Linked DNA regions of Homo sapiens: all the other regions are linked to region 2. Evidence: fine-mapped expression QTL. A gene starts in region 2. Each other region holds a variant in brackets. All regions are shown on one strand. Distances are from middle to middle.

Evidence for each region.
Region 1: its variant is fine-mapped to the expression of PIP5K1C in whole blood (TOPMed, PIP above 0.99).
Region 3: its variant is fine-mapped to the expression of PIP5K1C in skeletal muscle (GTEx, PIP above 0.99).
Region 4: its variant is fine-mapped to the expression of PIP5K1C in whole blood (INTERVAL, PIP above 0.99).

What each region holds. Positions count from the first base shown.
Region 1 is chr19:3,629,844-3,635,179 of GRCh38, forward strand. PIP5K1C (phosphatidylinositol-4-phosphate 5-kinase type 1 gamma) reads right to left here. Exons shown (of 18, transcript NM_012398.3): 17 at 3,594-3,677; 18 at 340-3,326. The coding sequence ends at 3,324. Among named protein-coding and RNA genes, the nearest start is that of CACTIN, 5.7 kb to the left of the region's middle. The variant C/A (reference allele first, on the strand shown) is at 3,274.
Region 2 is chr19:3,698,042-3,703,377 of GRCh38, forward strand. PIP5K1C (phosphatidylinositol-4-phosphate 5-kinase type 1 gamma) reads right to left here and starts at 2,427. Exons shown (of 18, transcript NM_012398.3): 1 at 2,256-2,427. The coding sequence starts at 2,349. RefSeq lists an enhancer at 1,484-2,267 and silencers at 1,966-2,105, 2,186-2,675.
Region 3 is chr19:3,647,655-3,652,990 of GRCh38, forward strand. It overlaps PIP5K1C (phosphatidylinositol-4-phosphate 5-kinase type 1 gamma), which reads right to left. Exons shown (of 18, transcript NM_012398.3): 8 at 4,172-4,377; 9 at 971-1,054. Among named protein-coding and RNA genes, the nearest start is that of CACTIN, 24 kb to the left of the region's middle. The variant G/A (reference allele first, on the strand shown) is at 3,236.
Region 4 is chr19:3,615,821-3,621,156 of GRCh38, forward strand. CACTIN (cactin, spliceosome C complex subunit) reads right to left here. Exons shown (of 10, transcript NM_001080543.2): 3 at 4,887-4,982; 4 at 4,307-4,452; 5 at 3,260-3,422; 6 at 3,055-3,169. Among named protein-coding and RNA genes, the nearest start is that of CACTIN, 8.3 kb to the right of the region's middle. RefSeq lists an enhancer at 2,225-3,097. The variant C/T (reference allele first, on the strand shown) is at 2,798.

The DNA.
Region 1 (5,336 bases), 68 kb before region 2:
TGGGCGGATCACGAGGTCAGGAGATCGAGACCATCCTGGCTAACATGGTGAAACCCTGCCTCTACTAAAAATAAAAAATTAGCTGGGCGTGGTGGCGGGCGCCTGTAGTCCCAGCTACTCAGGAGGCTGAGGCAGGAGAATGGTGTGAACCCAGGAGACGGAGCTTGCAGTGAGCTGAGATTGCGCCACTGCACTCCAGCCTGGGTGGAGAGCGAGACTCCATCTCTTAAAAAGAAAACAAACAAACAAACAAAAACAGAAAACAAAAAACACAGAACAAAGTCACTCCTCAGACTCCCAACCAGACCTCCGGAACCCACAGAAAGGCAAACAGGCGGATGCTTATTACCCGATTTATTAGAGAGATCTCTAAAAAGACGGGGTGTGGCGGGGGTAGGTGGGCGAGGAACCTGGGATGCAAACCAGTGTTTGGGGCCAGGAGTGGCTGTATGGTTTCAGAGGCGCCCACCACTCTGGGTTTGAGGGACACAGCACCCTCGTCTCGGCGCTTTGGATTGTCACGCACCAGACCACGGGGCGGAGGAATGGAGTGGCATCCCTGGGGGGAGTTAAGACACACGAGGTTTGCAGTTTCATTTTGTTTCAGAATCAGTTTGGCCATAAAAATGGGACTGGGTTGGGGACAGGCGGAGCGATTGAACCACCGGAGATGAGGAGGAGGTGGCAGGCGCCTCTCCTGGGGTGGGGACTGAGGGCTGTGGAGACAGTACCATGGTGAAGGACCCCATGGCAATGGGAGTATTGCACTGAGCCAGGTTTCGGGGGAACGGGGACGTGTCGGGATGGCGTAGGGGGACAGAGCCTGGCAGGAGACACATGGAAGTTTCCGCCTTGTCAGTCTCAGAGCAAACGCCTTTTAGTCTTTACAGTACAGGAATTTGGACACTGCCCACGTTCTCAGTGGACAGCAGCCATCAGAGGTGACCCAGGAGGGGAAGTGGGCATTGGTCACCAAGGTATTTACAGACTTCTATCATGGGGGACAGCGGGGTGGGTCCAGCAGCCTCCCTCGCGGGGGATCTGAGGGAGACCGAGTTCGCTAAATATTATAAATAGGTCTTGCCGTCCTCCTGCCCCCGCCCCTCGGCACAGTCAGTGGAGCACGTCAGCCTCGGTTTACAGTTCTCTGAAAAGGAACCAAAAAACACAACCAACACCAAGTATATCTCCAAAAGGGCCTTGGAGACAACACAAGAATGGAAATGAAATGGTATCCACAGAGGTTTGCACATTTCTCCTGCAAAGGCGCGTCGGCCGGGCACTGGTGTCCCGTGTCACTCAGCGGAGGGAGGCTGCCCTGGACGCGGTGCCGCCCGCCCGGGGCCACACCTGCTGCTCCGAGTCACCCCACAGGCTCTTGGCGTCTCTGGTGCCAGGGCTCTGGGCAGGGCGACTCGAGGACTCCCTGGGAGGACTGGTGTGGCCTCTGGGGGTTGGGCCTTTGAGATGACAATGCCCCTGTCCCTGCTGGCCATCCAGGTCCCAGACACCCCTTCTGACCTCTGCCCCTGCCTCCCCGGGGGGTGCCTGCTGGGTGTCCTTCGGAGGGACAGGGCGGGGGCTGATGGGTGGATGCCCGGTGCCAGCAGATGAGCACCAGGCTGTGAACTGAGGCCAAGGTCGCTTCCCAGGGCTGGACAGACCCTCTGAGCACGCAGGGAGGACCCCACGTGGGCTTGTCCTGATGGATGCTGGGAGCCACGCGGCTGGCCGGTTCCCGAGGAGGGTCGGCCCCTCTCCTGGGCAGAGTGGAGGGGCTGCTCTCGTGGAGTGTGTGTCCTCGCTGGGGACCTCGGGGATGGGTCCGGCTTCTCCACAGCAGGGGCCTTCCGGGCGCAGCGTGTGGGCTGTGCAGGAGGCCGACGGGACGTGAACAGCGGGTGGCGTGGCGTCATACGGAGGTTGTAACAGACAAAACACAGAGCCCTGCCTGGGAGGTTCTCCGGCCGTCTCAGACCCCACACCAGGCTCTGCCAGGTCTGGAGAGGAATTCTTCCCAAAGGTGCAGCTTCCACTCCAGCTCCTCACATCCTGGGCACATCTTGGAAGTGGGGGATTCCCACAGCCATCACCAATAAGCCCCTCTCAGGGGTCCTGGGGAAGGGCAGGGTGGGTGACTCTGCCGAGCTCTGGCCTCCAACCAGCACCCTCTGAGCGCAGCGGGCCCAGGAAGCTGCCCCAGGGCAGTCTGGGCTGAGTCCCACCACTGGGAGCGCTGCCCTCTTGGAGGGTGATGAGTCGGAAACAAAGTCTTCTCTCCCCTCCTCGGAGACATCACATCACTTAAACAAGAAAGAGGCGGCGGACATCCACACCAGTCCTGAAGGAGACTCCTGTGGAGCCGGGCCTGGCCCCCTAGGCCATGTCTCCACGTGGAGGGGGCGGGGAGCCTGACCTTCCGCCCTGAGCTGGTCTCCTGTGGCCCAAGGCCCGGCCTCCCGCTCTGTCCTGCCATGGAGAAAACGTCTCCGTTGCCTGGGCCCTCCATGCCAGTTGCTGAGTGGCCTACGTTGGAAGAGAAGGACAAGTCCCCAGCCCTGAGCTCCGCCAGCGTGGGTGGCAGCCTGGGGAAGAGGAGGCCTGGCCCTCCAGCTGTGGTGGGTCTGGATTGGAGGCGCCAGAGGTTTTTGCTCGAGGGGCACCTGGGAGGTGGGCGTCAGGGCCCCACTGCGGCGGGAACATAGCTGCTGAGTGGCCGCAGTGCTTGGCAGGGCGAGGGCTGTCCCCACAGTCGATGTTCAGGCCAGATGTCCTGCACTGAGGCCCCCAAACCCAAGCTGAGGGCAGGAGGGTCCGCTTCCCACGTGGATGGAGGCAGAGTTGCTCGGGACCCCAGCCGTCCCCTCTGCAGGCCGATGGGGCCCCCGGGGCTCAGGTCCCCAGAGGCCACCGCGAACAGCCTGGCTTCTTCCTCAGGACACAGGCAGGCACAGCAGAGAACCAAAGAGTGCAGTGGGCAGGGGCTCTTCTCCCTCTGGTTGGTTTGTTTGTGTCTTTTTTGTTCTTTTCCTAAAACGGCACACACGTGCTTCCGTCTCTGTGCCAAATAAGGACTCAAATGCGATTGGCCGCTCGGGAGGGTGGGTCTCACAGGGGCAGGCTGCCGACCGGGGTGCCGGGGCCCTGGGAGGCTTGTCGGGGAGGGGCCCGGCCGTCGGCATCCGTGCAGGGGGAGGACGAGGTCCGGTGGGGCGGCGAGGCGGGCATCTCCCGAGCTCTGGGCCTCAGCGGGGTGGGCAGCGCCTTCGGGGG[C/A]AGCCGGAGCAGAAGTGGAGCTCGGCTCTGGGTCGGGGGCTGCATAGAAATTACTGCAAGAGCAAGAGGACAGGTGAAGGTGGGCGGGGCGAGGGCCCACCCCAGGCCCCCTGCCAGGGACTGGCTTCCTTGGGCCAACACAGGCCCTGAGACACTTAGCCCACGGCCACCTCAGAGCCAGAGAGCCCAGGGTGGAGCTCTGGGCCACCTGTGCCCTCCCGCCCCGGGCCTCAGTCCCTGCCTATCCCAGTAGCTGGGGACCACGCTCAGTAGAACCTTGGAGCCCACGGGACCGGCGGGTGCACCTGGGCTGCACTTACTGTGTCGCTCTCGCCGTCGGAGGCCGGGGGGGCCTGGGCGCTATAGTGGAGCGGGGAGTACACCCAGCTCCTCTCATCGGTGGGCTGGCAGGTGGGCGCGCGTGCAGGAGGGCGCGGAAGAGCAGGGTGCGAGGAGGTGCAAGAGAGGCAGAGGGAGGAAGGAAGAGACAGGAGAACATAAAAGAGGCGAATCCCCCATGGAAGACGAGGGGTGGCTCAGCCCAGCTGCCCTCTCTGACCCGGTGGACTTGCTCCCAACCTGGACGGGCCTGGGGCCTCAGCTCAGCTTGGCGGGGCGGGGCACGGCGGGCGGCAGAAAGCAGTTAGTTCAGTCGAGGCAGGGCCTGAGATAGCAGGTGACAGAGCCGGCGGAAGCGGGTGGGGGTCGCGACCTGGAGCACCGAGTGTTCCTCCTCCTCCTCCTCCTCCACAGCCCGGCCCCACCACAGCCCCCAATCCTGCCTGTGCCACGGGCACCAGCGCACAGGCTCCTGGAAGCTCTCTATGGGGGTCCTGGGAGGTCGGGGTGCCGGACCTACTTCCCAACCCAGAAGCCTTTTGGGACCTGAATATATGGCTGCCTGCGGGCAGGGCCAGTCCCCTCTGCCAGCACAGACGTGCTAGGAGAGACTGAGGCTCGGACCACCCACCCTGCAAGAGCCAGGAGACGCCTTCCTGAGCAGCAGGGCAGAGTGAGGGCCAAGTTCAGGGCTAGGCACAGGCAGGGCCGTGTGCAGGGACACGGACAGCTCTTCCCAGCTGTGCCTGCGTGAGGGGTCCCAGGTCTGGGTGGGATCTGGGGAGGGAGGGAGGGTGCGTTCCTCCAACACCTCCGTCCCGCCTCCTGAGGAGCCCCCACCCCCTCAAGCTCCCCCTGCTTCTCCTGCCCCTAGGCTGCTCTGCTTTCTCAGGGCTCCAGCCTGGCCGCCCTGTCTTCCTTGTTGTGTCCTCCTCTCTCTCGGGCCTCTGTCACCAACCCAGCCTTCAACGCCCCTCCCGGCACAGATGACCTGCGAATTTCCACCAGGCCTGGCCTCGGCCTGAAGTGCCAGGCCTGAATACACACCTGCCTGGCCACGTCCACCTGGCGGCCCTCGGCCCCTAAACTCGCCACAGTCACAACCCAGTCCATCACCCCAAGACCCACTGCTCGTCCTTCCAGTCAGGATGACGCTGCCCACCTGCTGCCCAGGCCAACCCATGCCTCTGCCAGCTCCCAGTTGCCCAGCCTGGGCCAGCAGGGGCCTCCCTTGTGCTCCAGGTGAGCCCAGACCTCACCTGCAGGAGCACTGCCTCTCCCTGCCTCGGGCTCTGCCTCCATGCTCCCTCTAAAGGGCCCACCTCTGTGCTCACTCCACCCTGCCCGATCCTACAGCTTCCACAAGACCCCTGTTCCCGGGCCCTGGGCACCGAGGGCAGCGCACTCCTGCCCTGCGAGGCCGCATCGCGGAGGACTGACTCCTGCACTGAGGGGCCAGGACCCCAGCGCAGGCCTTGCCTGTTCCTCCAGGGTAGCAAATGCAGCCTGGAATCCCTGACGTGGGAATGGCAGGTCAGGTCCACCCAACGTCCCTTGAGAGCCCGGCATGGGGAGCCTATGTGGGTGCTCAGTACTGATTTGGTGGCTGCACTGATGGATCCCATGGGGACTTGAAAATGTGGGGCCAAAACAGGGTCCCCACCTGAGCCCTGAAAGAACTGGCCCGCAGGGAGGAGGGTGGCAGCAGCCACCTCAGAGCCGCT
Region 2 (5,336 bases):
TGCCGTGGGAAACGGGCAGCCTCCCTCGGCCCCTGTCGGACAAGGCTCCCGCTGTAGCTGAGCTTTCTGGAAGGTGTCGCCATCGCTTCTAACAGTGAGCGGTGACTCCAGAAACCACGGGCATGGGCCTCAGCAGGGGCCTGGAGGCACCGATGGTGGAGAGGCCGGAAAGGGGTGGCCAACCGGCACGACAATCACCAAGCACGAGCGCCAACTCATCCCAGGCTCAGCCCCTAGCACACACGGTCATCACCCCACTTCACAGACGGGACGCTGAAGCCCGGGGAAGTGACGGCCACACAGCACCTGAAGCGCGGAGCTGGGAGGGGGACATCGGCGGGACCAACTCTGGGGCTCCCCCTTAACCACTGCCTGGCGCTCGCCCTCTCTACAAACCGATACCAACATAGGGTGGGGAGACTCCAGATGACCAGAGATAAAAAGCAAGCAGTTCACAGAGTCATAAACGTGTGGCATTTCTCACCAGGGCCGTCCTGCCCCCAGGGGACACTGAACGGTGTCTGGGTCACTTGTGGCTGTCACAACTGGCAGGTGCTCCTGGCATGGAGTGGGCAGAAGCCAGGGGCGTTGCTCAGCACCCCTAATTTCCTGACTCAAAATACCTCTGCCAAGGCACAGAAGCCCCAGTGAGGCATGAAACCATCTCGGTGAAGAACAAGCAGGCCCCTTTATGTGCTCACGTCTCTGTGGCCCAGCCAGGCACAACCTAAACTCACCAGCGCTAACATCAGGAGGGATGGCGTTGGAGGAGTGAGGCAACTCTGAATTTTAAACATTCAGAAGCAGTATATGGCCAGCTGGGGTCAGATTTCTGTGGATTTCAGGGATGGGCAGAGATGCCAGACCCTGACCTTCCAGCCCTCCCCGGCCCCCCACCCCCACCCCCCCACTCCCCCGCTCTCCCACCCCACCACCATGCTCAGTCTGGAGCTGGCAACTTTATCTGTCCCCGGTGCTCCCAGAGCCCCTGATAAGATGAATGGTCGCGGTGTGGTTTTCTTTTGGTCAGCGAGTCCTGGGCTACTTTGTCTCTGACCAGCTGGGGTCAGAGGGCTGACAGCGGAAGTTGGGGGGCCCAAGAAAGGAACCCGGGCTGGGGCCTGGTGCCCTGCCTGGGTTCCTCCACCATGTCTCTTGCTGGCCAGGCCAGGACACCGGCTGCCCGCAAAGAAAGGGGCGAGGCCACTGGCTCTGGGGAAGGAACCGGGTCACCTACCAAGCGGTTCCAGATGGCCGCCGGGAGGGAAGCCACGAGTGTCTTTCAAGGCGGGGGGTGGGGGGGGGACTTGATGACTTCCACACTCTCTCTCTCTCCAGACATCTCCCCAACTCCCAGGCAGCACGCATCGCCCGCCCGCCCGCTTGCCCGCCTGCCAACCAAGGAAGCTTCGGGAGGCCTGGGGGGAGAAGGAGGACGGATGCCCGTGTGGGTGTCTACAGAGACGCTGCTGCTGGCTGCCTGGGAGGAGCAGAGGATTTTGTGAATCCGGAAACTTCCGATTTGGGAGCTTGTGACCTCGACTGAGAAGGAACTGTTCCCTTCCTCTGGGCTCTGCACACCGTCCCCACAGAAGGGAAGGCCCAGCTGCCGCCACCTACCCGGCTGGAGGTCCAGGAAGCAGCTAAAGGGGGCATGAGACAGCCGTGCCCCCCGCCCAGCCCGCAGCCCCACCAGTGTGTCCTGGGGGAAGGCTCGGGGAGAGGAAAAGGGGGCGACAGGGCACCCTGTGTGCACAGCCGGGGCGGTGGAGGCATCTTGAGATGTAACCCTTTTCCTCCCCTCATTTTAGCAGGGAGGTAAACTGAGGCCCAGGAAGGTGAGGAAAGGTCGCGCACCCGGACTCAGGTCTGGGGACTTACAGAAAGGGAGGTGACATCAGGAGGTGGGCACGCACGGCCTCAGAGACCCCCGCCTCCACCCAAGCAGCCGCCACTCACACGACGGGCAGCCCCTGGGAGCGGGTCAGGCAGAACGGGGATCCCCAGCGGCGCCCACGCCGAGTCGCCCCCGGCCCGGGAGCGGTGGGAGGTAGCCCCTCGCAGGCCTCCCGCTTCCCGGCGCGGCTTCAGCCCCGTCCTCCCCGCGGCTCCAGGGGACTGCCCCGCCCCAGGCTCCTGGAACCGGCGGCGCCCCCGCAGCGACCGTGCAGCCCCCGCCCCGGCCCCGCAGCCCCGCGACTCTCGGCGCTCGGACGAGCCCAGCGGGCCGCAGCCCCGGGAGGCCGGGCCGTTACCTGCCGCCGCCCCGCTCTCTGCCGCCCACGCCGCCTCCGAGGGCACGGCCCCCGCCTCAGCGCTCTCCGCCTCGTCCGGTACCTCCAGCTCCATGGCCGCGCGCGGACGGCGGCGGGGGCGCCCGAGGGGGACCCGAGCTGCGACCGCCGCCGCCGAACAACAAGCGCCGCCGGCCAAGGGAGGGCGCGCCGGGCCGGCGCGGGGCGGACGGGGCGGGGCCTGCGTGCGTGCGACGCCGCGGACGGCGCGCGGCCAATCGGGGCTCGGGGGCGGGGCCTGCTTGCGACCCGCAGCCAGGAGCGCCTCGAGTGCCCCCTCGCGCCCAGGGGTGGGAGTACAGAGCCAGGCTCGCCATTCCATCGTATTAGGTCAGTAAGATTGACAGGCACGATACGTATCAATAACATTGCTGTGCACAACACATACCAATAACATGGATCTACACAACACATGACAATAATATGGATCTATACAGCACGTGCCAATAATATGGATGTACACAGCACATGCCAATAACATGGATCTAAACAGCACATGCCAATAACAGGGACCTGCACAGCGCATGACAATAACATGGATCTGGCCGGGCGCGGTGACTCACGCCTATATTCCCGGCACTTTGGGAGGCCGAAGAGGGCGGATCACCTGAGGTCAGGAGTTCAAGACCATCCTGACCAACATGGTGAAATCCTGTCTCTACTAAAAATACAAAAAATAGCTGGGCGTGGTGGCACATGCCTGTAATCGCGGCTACTCGGGAGGCTGAGGCAGGAGAATCGCTGGAACCCAGGAGGGAGAGGTTGCAGTGAGCTGAGATCGCACCATTGCCCTCCAGCCTGGGCCACAGAGTGAGACTCTGTCCCAAAAAAAACCACACATGGACCTACACAGCACATGCCAATAACATGGAGTTACCCAATGCATGCCAATAACATGGATATACACAATACATGCCAATAACACGGATATGCACAATACATGCCAATAACATGGATATACACAATACATGCCAATAACATGAATCTATACTATATCATTGACATGGATCTACATAAAACATACAAATAGCATTGCTATATGCAATACATGCCAATCACATTGCTATACACAATGAATACCAATAACATTGATCTACACAATACATGTAACTAACATTGATACACACACTACATGTCAATAACATTGATATACACACTACATGCCAATAACATGGATATACACACTACATGCCAATAACATTGATATACACACTACATGCCAATAACATTAATGTACACACTACATGTCAATAACATTGATATACACACTACATGTCAATAACATTGATATGCACAAAATATACCAATAACAGTGATATACACAGTACATGTAAATAATATTGATCTACACAGGGCCGGGCGCGGTGGCTCATGCCTGTAATCCCAAGACTTTGGGAGGCCGAGGCGGGCGGATCACGAGGTCAGGAGATTGAGACCATCCTGGTTAACATGGTGAAACCCCGTCTCTACTAAAAATACAAAAAATTAGCCAGGCGTGGTGGCGGGCGCCTGTAGTCCCAGCTACTTGGGAGGCTAAGGCAGGAGAATAGGGTGAACCTGGGAGGCAGAGCTTGCAGTGAGCTGAGATCGTGTCACTGCACTCCAGCCTGGGCAACAGAGCGAGACTCCATATCAAAAAAAAATATATATATATATAGATCTACACAATACATGTTATTAACATTGATCTACGCAATACATATCAATAACATTTGCAATTAACTACCTGTTTATTATCATATTGCAAATAATATTTATATTCCATCGTTTGTATTACGTAAGTATAGATATGTTATTGTTTTCTTTATATTATTTTATCAATAATAATACAGTTTGCTATTATAAGAAACATATAATTATAGAAATACATAATAAATTATATATATTTATGCAAATGTAAGTAGCAATATTTATATCCTTCTTTTTTTTTTTTGAGATGGAGTCTTGCTGTTGTTGCCCAGGCTGGAGTGCAGGGGGGCGATCTGAGCTCACTGCAACCTCTGCCTCCAGGGTTCAAGTGATTCTCCTGCCTCACCCTCCCAAGTAACTAGGACTACAGGTACGTGCCACCACGCCCGGCTAATTTTTGTATTTTTAGTAGAGATGAGGTTTCGCCATGTTGGCCAGGCTGGTCTTGAACGCCTGACCTCGTGATCTTCCCGCCTCAGCTTCCCAAAGTGCTGGGATTACAGGTGTGAGCCACTGCGCCCGGCCATATTTATGTTCTTTATATAAGCACATAATAAGGCTTATGTTGTTTATGTTAATTTAAGTAATAACGTTTATATTATTTACATAAATGTAAATCATAATGATTATATTACCTATGCACATAAATAATGTTTGGGGTGGGCACAGAGGCTCCCGCCTGTAATTCCAGCACTTTGGGAGGCCAAGGCAGGAGGATTACTTGAGCTCAGGAGTTCTAGACCAGCCTGGGTAACATAGTGAGCCCTCTCATCTCTACAAAAAAAATTTTTTTAATTAGCTAGGTGTAGTGAGACCCCTCATCTTTACAAAAAAAATTGTTTTTTAATTAGCCAGCTACTTAGTAGGCTAAGGTGGGAGGACTGCTTGAGCCCGGGAACTCAAGGCTGCAGTGAGCTATGATCGCACCACTGCACTCTGGCCTGGGCAACAGAGAAAGACCCCGTCTGTCCCCGCAAAAAAAAAAAACAAACAAAAAAAACAAAAAGACAAATTCTGTGTGGTTCCACTCCTAGGAGGTCCCTAGAGTTGTCACATTCACAGAGACAGAAAGTAGGATGGGGGGTGCCAGGGGCTTGGGGGGAGACGAGGAGTGAGTGTTTCACAGGGGCAGACTTCCAGTCTCAGAAGATGAGAACATTCTGGAGATGATGGCGGTGATGTTTGCACAGCCATGGGAATGTGCTTAAGGCCACGGAGCTGTGCTCTTAGACATGGTGAAAATGGGCCGGGCGCGGGGGCTCACACCTGCAATCCCAGCACTTTGGGAGGCCGAGGTGGGCGGATTACCTGAGGTCGGGAGTTCAAGACCAGCCTGACTAACATGGAGAAACC
Region 3 (5,336 bases), 50 kb before region 2:
CTAGAGCCCCAGCTGAGCACGGTGGCTCACACCTGTAATCCCAGCACTTTGGGAGGCCAAGGCAGGCAGATCACCTGAGATCAGGAGTTCAAGACCAGCCTGGCCAACATGGTGAAACCCCATCTCTACTAAAAATACAAAAATTAGCCGGGCGTGCTGGCGCGTGCCAGTAATCCCAGCTACTGGGGAGGCTGGGGCAGGAGAATAGGGTCGACTCAGAAGGCAGAGGTTGCAGTGAGCCAAGATCGCACCAATGCTCTTCGGCCTGAGTGACAGAGCGAGACTTTGTCTTAAAACAAACAAATGAAAAACCAAAAAACAAATATTCGAGCCCCAAAGTGAGGCCTCAAACCCACTCCTTGGATTTTCTTTTTTCTTTTTTTTTGGGACAGGGTCTTGCTCTGTCACCCAGCCTGGGGTGCAGTACGGCCATCATAGCTCACTGCTGCAGCCCCAGACTCCTGGGCCCAAGGAATCCTCCTGCCTCGGCCTCCCAAGTAGCTGGGACTGCAGGAGCACCACCACGCTCAGCTAATTTTTTGATATTTTGTAGAGATGGGGTCTTGCTATGTTGCCCAGGCTGGTCTCAAACTCCTGGGCTCAAGCAATCCTCCCGCCTCGGCCTCCCACAGTGCTAGATTACAGGTGTGGACCACTACGCCCAACTCACTCTAGATTTTCAAGGCGACCAAACACCTTCCCTTTAGGGCTCAAGAAGGGGCAGCCAAGCAAGAGCTTTCCAGGTTGAGGAAGCCCCGAGAGCTGCTGGTGCGGCTGTTTCCACGGGCAAGCGCCTCTGTGCATGGGTGTCCTGGGGGCGCCCATCCACCTGTGGGACTGCAGACCCAGGCGCCCACCTGTGGGGCTGCAGACCCGGGCGCCCACCTGTGGGGCTGCAGACCCGGGCGCCCACCTGTGGGACTGCAGACCCGGGGCGTCCACCTGTAGGACTGCAGACCCGGGCACCCACCTGTAGGACTGCAGGATGTCGATGATGCCAATGTGCAGCAGCAGCCGCTCCCCGCGGCCGTTCACAGCGGGGATCCCGCCCATCCTGGGGAGAGAGGCCGAGGGTACCATCAGCATCCCGCAGAGCTGGGACTCGGGGCAGGCGGGGCTGGGGACTCCAGGGCTAGGGAGTCCATCTGCTCCTGTGGGTGGCAACTTGGCCAAGCTCTCGGAGTGGGGCCTGGCACCCGGGAACCTCTGTCCTGACATCCCTCCATCACCCCCAGCCTCAAACCCAGGCCCAGGCACTGCTGAGGAGTCCCAGCTAGGAGGCCTGGGCACATACCCCCTACACACACGTGTGCCTGGACACACACATGCACACACACGCACACTGCATGCCCAGGTAGGGCCACGGGGTCTCAGGTACAGACTGGGGAGTTAATTGTCACCCGGCACCATGCCCACACGTCCCCTGCCCAGCGCGGGAGTTAACTGTCACCCGGCACCATGCCCACACGTCCCCTGCCCAGCGCGGGAGTTAACTGTCACCCGGCACCATGCCCACACGTCCCCTGCCCAGCGCGGGAGTTAACTGTCACCCGGCACCATGCCCACACGTCCCCTGCCCAGCGCGGGAGTTAACTGTCACCCGGCACCATGCCCACACGTCCCCTGCCCAGCGCGGGAGTTAACTGTCACCCGGCACCGTGCCCACACGTCCCCTGCCCAGCGCGGGAGTTAACTGTCACCCGGCACCGTGCCCACACGTCCCCTGCCCAGCGCGGGAGTTAACTGTCACCCGGCACCGTGCCCACACGTCCCCTGCCCAGCGCGGGAGTTAACTGTCACCCGGCACCGTGCCCACACGTCCCCTGCCCAGCGCGGGAGTTAACTGTCACCCGGCACCATGCCCACACGTCCCCTGCCCAGCGCGGGAGTTAACTGTCACCCGGCACCGTGCCCACACGTCCCCTGCCCAGCGCGGGAGTTAACTGTCACCCGGCACCGTGCCCACACGTCCCCTGCCCAGCGCGGGAGTTAACTGTCACCCGGCACCGTGCCCACACGTCCCCTGCCCAGCGCGGGAGTTAACTGTCACCCGGCACCGTGCCCACACGTCCCCTGCCCAGCGCGGGAGTTAACTGTCACCCGGCACCGTGCCCACACGTCCCCTGCCCAGCGCGGGAGTTAACTGTCACCCGGCACCGTGCCCACACGTCCCCTGCCCAGCGCGGGAGTTAACTGTCACCCGGCACCGTGCCCACACGTCCCCTGCCCAGCGCGGTTAGTGAGGCCACACGTGCAGCAGTCATCCTGAAGCCACTGGGACCCAGACCCGCTGGGCTGGCGCCCTGCACGCTCTGCTCACGCCACAGGCTGGTACGCTCACCTGCTCCCCCGCCAGGCCAGCGAAGACCCTACAAACGCCAGGATGGTCTGAGGGGGAGCTGTGCCTGGCCTTGGCTCCCGCACCCCCCCGCAGCTACACCCTGGTTGGGGCCCCGGCTCCTCCTCTGCCATCCATGGGAAATACCACCACCGCTGCAAACCAAAGCCCAGCTGGTGGCCTAGTGCCAGCCAGTGCCAGCCAGCACCGTCCCTGGGGCCAGGCCAGGTGGAACTTGGCTCCACACCTTCGTGGCTGCACTGGGGAAGGCTGCCCCCCAACCTAGGAGCCTATTTCCTCAGCTGGAAACAGGGGAAGCCCACCTCCCTCCTCCAAGGCCGCTGTGAAGACTGAACAGGTACCAAAGTGAAGGCTCGGGCCTGCCCCCACTGTCAGGGTGCTGCTGTGACCAGGGCACAATCTCAGCACTGCTATACGACACCTGTCTATCCCGCATCCGGGGCCATGTCTGGGGACATCTGTGGTTGTCACAACTGGGGGGTGCTCCTGGCCCGGAGTGGGTGGAGGCCCGGGACGCTGCTCAGCACCCTGCAGTGCCCAGGACAGCCCCACCCCAGAGAATGACCCAGCCCTCACATCCAGTGTCCCAGGAGAGCTCTGTGAGTATCTCCCCAGCCAAACCCTGAGCCCTGTGAGGGCAGGGCCTGCCTGGTCCCTCTGCCCCTGGTGTCCAGCAGACATGACTGCAGGCCACTGAGATGTGGCCTCCTCTCTCCACCACCGTTCCTATCTTCTGTGGCAGCCACTTTTTTTTTCTTTTTGGACAGAGTTTAGCTCTTGTTGCCCAGGCTGGAGTGCAATAGCTCAATCTCAGCTCACTGCAACCTCCACCTCCTGGGTTCAAGCGATTCTCCTGCCTCAGCCTCCCAAGTAGCT[G/A]GGATTACAGGCGTGCACCACCACGCCCAGCTAATATTTTGTATTAAGCAGAGATGGGGTTTCACCATGTTGGCCAGGCTGGTCTGGAACTCCTGACCTCAGATGATCCACCTGCCTCAGCCTCCCAAAGTGCTGGGATTACAGGTGTGAGCCACCGCGCCCAGCGTTTTTTTTTTTTTTTTTAAGACAGGGTCTCACTCTGTTGCCCAAGCTGGAGTGCAGTGGTGTGATCTTGGCTCACTGCAACCTCCGCCTGCCACGCTCACGCCTGCCACGCCTTCAGCCTCCCAAGTAGTTGGGACTACAGGTGCACGTGCCACCACGTCCAGCTACATTTTATATTTTTTGTAGAGATGGGGTCTTGCCATGTTGCCCAGGCTGGTACTGAACTCCGGGGCTGAGGCAATCCTCCCACCTTGGTCTCCCAAGGTGCTGGGAGTACAGGCATGAGACACTGCGCCCAGCCAGCAGCTGCTTTGATCTGTGTGGAATCGGATTTTGCAGTCCCTCTGCTTCGTGGGCTGTGTCCTGCTGTGAGCCCTGCCTCGCCCGATCCCTCTGGCCTCCCATGCGCCTTCCACACCTTTGTGGCCCCTCTCTGCACGGGTGGCGTGTAGACCCCTCTGAGTGCCACCGGGAAACGCTATCTCTCTCTCATTCCTGTGGATGGCCAGTGGCCTCGGCCCAGTCACGGGTGAATGGGAAACGCCCCCACCATTGCAAGCCAAGGCCCGGAACCCTGCACTCAGCCTGCGGCCCGCACTACGGCCTGGCTTCGCTCTGAGGCGCTGGCACAAGGCTCCCAGACTCTGTCTGTCACCCACGCATGCCCTCGCCAGCCCTCCCTGCCTGTTTTCACACTTGGGACGGGGATGGGGAACTGGAGCCTGTGGGGAAGGGAAGCGGGACGGGTCCGGCGGCCCCCCGCCCACCTACGTGTCATCCGATTCGATGGCCTCCCCGCGCGCGGCGCCACCCTGGATGGACTCCATGGCCGTGGAGTAGAGCGCCTTCTGGCCCACAGGCCGCTTCTCATCTGAGGTGCTCTGGGCGCCCTGCGCCTGCCGCTCGCGCTCGTGCTGGTCGATGTTGTGCACGCCCAGCAGCAGGCTGTAGTCCATGATCTTGAAACTTTCCAGGACCTGGCGGGATCGGGCAGGAACACGCCACGCCGTCAGCCGTCTCTATCCCCCACAACGGCTCCCGGACCCTATGGGGTTCCCAGCACGGATGGCCCCGTGGGCTCGGGTGTGAGAGATGGAGTCCCACGGCCAGGCAGGAGTGGGGGTTCTAGTGTTATCCTGAGGAACAGAGGGGCTGCGGTCACACAGCGGCATCAGAGCAGGCCAGAGAATGGGGGCTTCCAGCCTCACAGCAGGCTGCCCCGGGCACTGAGACAGGGACTTCCCTTCCTGGCTTTACTCCTTCCTGAGAGACAGGGAGCCGGGCCTATGCTCTGACCAGCCCAGGCCCATGGGCAAGGACGTGCCCGGCCTGACAGGTGACACCCAGGTGGGTGGATGCCCAGGGTAGCCTCAAGGCCCCTGAGTGGTCTGGGCGGTTTTCTGGGGGTATGGGTCAAGTTCTCAAAGGGGTCGGGGAGCTGGGGATGGTCAGCAGCGGGGCCTGGGTGGAGTTGGGGAGCTGGGAGGTCCCAGGCTCTGCTCCTGACAGGCTGGGGCCTCCCCTCCTTGGCTCCATGCCTCGAAGCTGCCGGGGTGGGACGGGGACGACGGAGCTAACCCAGGCAGAGGAAGAGCCGTGCATATCATTCTTTCGCTAACACGGAGCCAACGCAGGCTCCACGGGGACAGGAGCCAGACCCTCACTGGACGCACATGGGCCCTCACTGTGGCCTGCAGAGCAAGCAGTCATCCCATTTGATGGGTGAGGAAACTGAGGCACAGCAAGCTCTCATGGCTGGCTGGGAGCTCTGGGCTTGTGACCACAGCATCTGAAGGCTGGGCTCTTCTCTGGGGGGTGGGGGGACTCTACCACTGTCATCGTGTAACCTCCAGAGGAACCACTTCTCAGCAGTGCAGACACTCCCGACCCCCAAGGGCTGGGTCTGGGGACATGTTATAAGTGTTTTGTTTTCTTT
Region 4 (5,336 bases), 82 kb before region 2:
CAGCCAATCACCTGGGACCCTGGAATCGGCACCCAGAGCTGCAGCCCCTTTGCTGGGCGCTAAGTGGCACTGGAATCCGTGGCAGCCCCAGCCAAGCACAGCGCGGCCGTGCCCAGACAGGCGGGGCTACCACGAACACTGAAACCCAAGCAGAAGAGCCCAGCCGCGAGGCTCCCAGGAAGCCAGGCCAGGTGCCGCCAGGTCAGCGTCTATAGAAAGCCGGGTCTGGACATGCTGCTGCATGTCTGGATGCCTCCCGAATGCCCACAAGGGGGCCCGGGGGTTTAGGGGGTCCCAGCAGCTGCTAGAGGCTGGGGGTGCAGGCCAAGGGCCCTGGGGCTGCGTGGGGGAAAGGCCAGGCCCTACACAGGGTGGGAGGCTAATGAAGCTGAGCTGGGATGACACCCGTTTTCTACTGCACAACCTCCTGTAGGGTTAGAACTTCCTAGAAAAAGCTAGGTGCACCAAAATCTCACAAGTCACCACTAAAGAACTTATTCATGTAAACGGCCGGGCACGATGGCTCACGCCTGTAATCCCAGCACTTTTGGAGGCTGAGGTGGGTGGATCACGAGGTCAGGAGATCAAGACCATCTTGGCCAACATCGTGAAACCCTGTCTCTACTAAAATACAAAAAATTAGCCAGGTGTGGTGGTAGGTGCCTGTAATCCCAGCTACTTGGGAGGCTGAGGCAGGGGAATTGCTTGAACCCAGGAGGCAGAGGTTGCAGTGACCTGAGAACACACCACTGCACTCCAGCCTGGCAAGAGAGCAAGACACCGTCTCAAAAAACAAAAAAACTTATTCATGTAACCAAACACCACCTGTTCCCCAATAACCTACAGAAATAATAAAAAAACTTTAATTTTGTAAAAATTAAAAAGAAAAAGCATGCAGTCACTCATGCCTTTAATCCTAGCCCTTCTGGAGGTGAGGCAGGAGGATTGCTTGAGGCCAGGAGTTCAAGACTAGCCTGGGCAACACAGTGAGACCCCATCTCTACAAAAAATTTTCAGAAGTGGCTGGGCACAGTGGCTCACTTCTGTAATCCCAGCACTTTGGGAGGCTGAGGTGGGAGGATCATGAGGTCAAGAGATTGAGACCATCCTGGCCAACATGGTGAAACCCTGTCTCCTTAAAAATACAAAAATTAGCTGGGCGTGATGGCGCGCGTCTGTAATCCCAGCTACTTGGGCAGCTGAGGCAGGAGAATCGCTTGAATCTGGGAGGCAGAGGTCACAGTGAGCAGAGATCGCACCACTGCACTCCAGCCTGGTGACAGAGTGAGACTCCTTCTCAAAAAATAAAATAGCTGGGTGTGATGGTGAGCGCCTGTAGTCCCAGCTTCTAGGGAGGCTGAGGTGGGAGGATCACCTGAACCCAGGAAGTCGAGGCTACAGTGAGCCTTGATCGCGCCACTCAACTCTCGCCTGGGCGACAGAGCGAGACCTTGTCTCTGAAAAATGAAAAGTAAAAGGAAAACCCCAATTAATTTAAGAAGATCCAGGACAGGGGCTCTGTGGGTCTCCAGGGGGACAGCAAAGTCAAGACCCCTCGGTTCCCTACTCCTGGAAACCATGTTGAAAGGAGAATCAGAAACAAACTCCCTCGGAAGACACCAAAGCCACCTGGGGTCCCCAACTGTAACGCGTGAGGGGAAAGGAGGGCTGAGCGACGTGGTGGAGGCAGAAGGCCATGGAAGGGATGGGAGAGGCCGGGGCCTAGGGCAGTGGGGCACGCTGGAAACGCCTCCCAGGCTTATAGGAGAGGCCGGGCCCAGGGCAACGCTGGAAACGCCTCCCAGTCTTACAGGAGAGGGCGGGGCCTAGGGCAACGCTGGAAACGCCTCCCAGGCTTCCTGCAGCCGGTGGGTAGGGTCTGCGGCTTCTGAAGGAAAATGTACTGCACCCAGAAGTCTTTGCCCAGCCCCGCTGCCACCAGCAGGAGCACACCAAGACCCTTAACGGACACACCTCTGATGCTGGAGAACTGCCCTGCCTCTCTGAGGTTACGGGAGAATGTGCCCCACGGAGGAGACCACTGGAGGGACAGGATGGCTGAGTGAACTCCACCTCCGGGGAACACAAAGCTCCACTGAAAAAGAGGAAAGCCACAGGCTCTTTCCTAGGAAGGACCTGCCACAGACCACGCTGAGGGCTGCAAATGACACTGACCCAGCCTCCTGGGATCCTCGGCCACCATGATGGCACCCAAGGCCTGAGAGGGAGGGCAGGGGAAGGACCGGGTCTATCGACAGGGATGCGTGGCCCATGAGAGCCAGGCACTGTTACAGCAGCCGCTGGGGCGTGGATTTTGGCGGGGAGGGGGCAGGGCTGCTGTGGTTGGCTTTTAGACCGGGGGGGGGGGGGGTCTCATCTAGGGCAATTCTGCCCCCAGGGGACTCTGGGCAACGTCTGGGGACATCTGCGGTTGTCAGGACTAGGGGTGCTCCTGACCCTGGGTGGAGGCCAGGGACGTTGCTCAGCACCCAGCAGTGTCCAGGACGGCCCCACCCTAGGGAACGGCCCAGCCCGCATGTCCGCAGTGCTCAGGGTAGACGCTTTAGAGCATCCCCGGTGACCATGTGTGTGCAACCACACGGAGGGGGGGGAAACGTGATTTTAAAAGCCCATCAGGTTGGAGGGGCACGAACTGACGCACGGGACAGGTAGCGCCCTGAAGCTGGGCTGCACGGCCTTCAGGCCAGGTGGAGCGAGACTTGCTGTCAAACAGGCAGAGCCACTGAGAGCACTGAAACCTGAGCGGAAAGCCCCGTGGCTCCCATAAGGCCGGCAC[C/T]GCCGAGTCAGCGTTAACGGGACGCTGGGTCTGGACGCTGCTGGCCCTGCACCCCAGACAGAGGCCCGCCCCACTCATCCCTCCCAGGGCCTACTGCCCGCTGCTGCCCCCTGGTGGCTCGGCCCAGAAGGGGAGGCCCCAGTTGGGGAAACCGAGGCCTGCAGAGAGCACCAGGCCCCACAGCAAGTCTGAGGCTTCTGGGTGAACACTGTAGCCCCCGCAGCTCCCCTGGAGCCCAGGCCCATGCCCGCCGTTACCTGGCCCCTTGCCCGAGGCCTCCAGCTTGCGGAGCTTGGAGATCTCGTCCTCGGTGATGGTGGTCATGTCCCGCCAGAAGTCGGCGTTCTTGCCCTGCTCCAGCTCCATGTAGACCTGGGGGCAGGGGGCAGGGGTCAGGACACGGGTGTGGCTGGGGTGGGGGTGAGGGTGCAGGTCAGAGGAGCATCGGGTGGGGCTGGGTACCTGGATATCCTCCAGCAGGTCCTCCATGTCGGCCACGGTGAGGCCGTTGAGGAACGTGTAGGGCTCATGCATCTCCACGGCCAGATCGTCATCCTCAGCGCTGATGTACTTGGCCAGCAGGTCGATGGGCTTGGCCCGCCCGTCCCGGATGCGGATCTTGGAACTGTGGGGAGCAGGGGAAGGTGGCATCAGAGCCTGGGCTGTGCCCTCCATGCTAAAGACCCTGCCCTTGGGGTGACCACACCAGTGGGAGCCGAGGAGGGGCCTGACCCGTTGGGGGTGGTCAGGGAAGGCTTCCTGGAGGAGGAGGAGGAGGAGGCATAAGGTAGAGTGAGCCGGGTCAGCCAAAGGGCGCAGGCCAGCAGTGCAGACAAAGTGCAAGCAGCGTGGACCCGGAGGTGGGCCAGGTGGGAGGGGCTTCCTGGAGGGCCTCTGGGATGTGCCCAGGATGGCGGCTTCTATGTGGGCTGTGATGGGGAAGAGTGGAGGAGCTGAAGCAGAGGCAGGCTGGGGGACCAGAGTAGTCACTGCCTTGCAACCACCTCCTCCCCCAGGCAGACCACTCGGGGCAGAGAGCCGGGTTTCTGTTCTGGGCCTGCAGGGGGGTACGCGTTGCAGGCGGGCCCTGGTCCAACCCAAGGGAACCCGTCACCAGGGAGGCCCGAGCTGGGAGGAGCCTGATGTCACCCGCCACGGGGCCCAAGGCAAGCAGGGACACCCCGGAGCCTCAGCTTGTCTGTAAACCAGGCGGATGGGGGTGCCACCCTCCTGGGTGGAGTGTGGGAGGGACAACTGCAGTCAGTGCAGGACTGGCGTCCAGCATGCGTGGGGTGCCGTTCACCTGGGCCCGTCTCCTCTGCACCCTGCCCAGCAGGGGAGGGCAGGAGACAGAAGCCTTGCCGCCCGGGAAGGGGTCAGGAAGGGAAGGTCCCAGGAAGTGCCGTGTGGGACCCTGAAGGGTGGGAGAGCAGTGGCTTCCAGAGTGACAGCCAGTGCCCGGCCCTGGCTCCAAGTCTGGGTCGGAGGGAGGGGGAGGCCCCAGCGCACCGCAGCTTGGCCTGCTGGAGGTGGAAGTTGTCCTCCTGCTCCTCCCATGTCTTGAAGTGCTCTGCCTCCTTCTCGCGCTGCAGCATCTCCAGCTCCTGCTCGCGCATGGCCTTCTCCCGCTCCCGCTCCAGCCGCAGCTGCTTCACCTGCAGGCACAGGAGGCTGAGGGCAGCGGGGACCGTGCGGTCTGCAGGGCTGCGGGGGGAGGGGCTGTGATGATGGGGGCCCAGCCTTCACCCAGCTGCCCTGGGCACAGGGATTGGTCCGGAGATGCCTGGGCTGGTGGACAGACCTTGGGAAGGGAGAGGGCCCTCCTGCCCGAGACTCAGCAGCTCAGATCAGCTGGGGCCCTCTCGGCCACCCTGAAGGGAGCATGTGGGAGTGAAGGCCCGAGGCCAGCAGAGCCGAGAGGTGGAGGGAAACAGTTTCCTGGGGCCATGGTCTGAGCCCCTGGATCCAGCCTTACCTGAAGCCAGCCCCCAGGACTTCCCACTTAAGCCCCTCAAGTCCTGCCAAAGGGGGCGGGCCTCCAGGCCCTGGAAAGGGAGGGCCCTGCCCAGTGGGCTGGCAGGGTGCCTACCTTCTGCAGCTCCAGCCGGTTGTCCTCCTGGATCCTCTTGTTCCGCTCCTTCAGCTCCTTCTCCTCCAGGTGGCTGATCCCCTTCTTCTCCAGGGCCTGGAAGCACCAGGCACACCTGCCCTGAGCACAGACCCGCCCCCTCGCCCCCCTCCTCAGCTCCTTCGTCCAAGAGATTGACCAGGGCCCTTGTTTTGCAGAGAGAGGTGACCTGCCAGCACTGCACGTCTTCCACCCCCTCCTTAACACTCCTGAAACCCAGTGCATCCAATTCAGTGCAGACATGGAGCCCCCACTGGGAGTGAGATGTATGCAAAGGGTAAGAAGGGGCTACCCCAACTCTCAACAGGAGGGCCTCACTCGGGGCCGCCCCAACTCCCAACAGGAGGGCCTTGCTCGGGGCCACCCCAGCCCCCAACAGAAGAGCCTTGCTCGGGGCCTGCTGACTCGCTT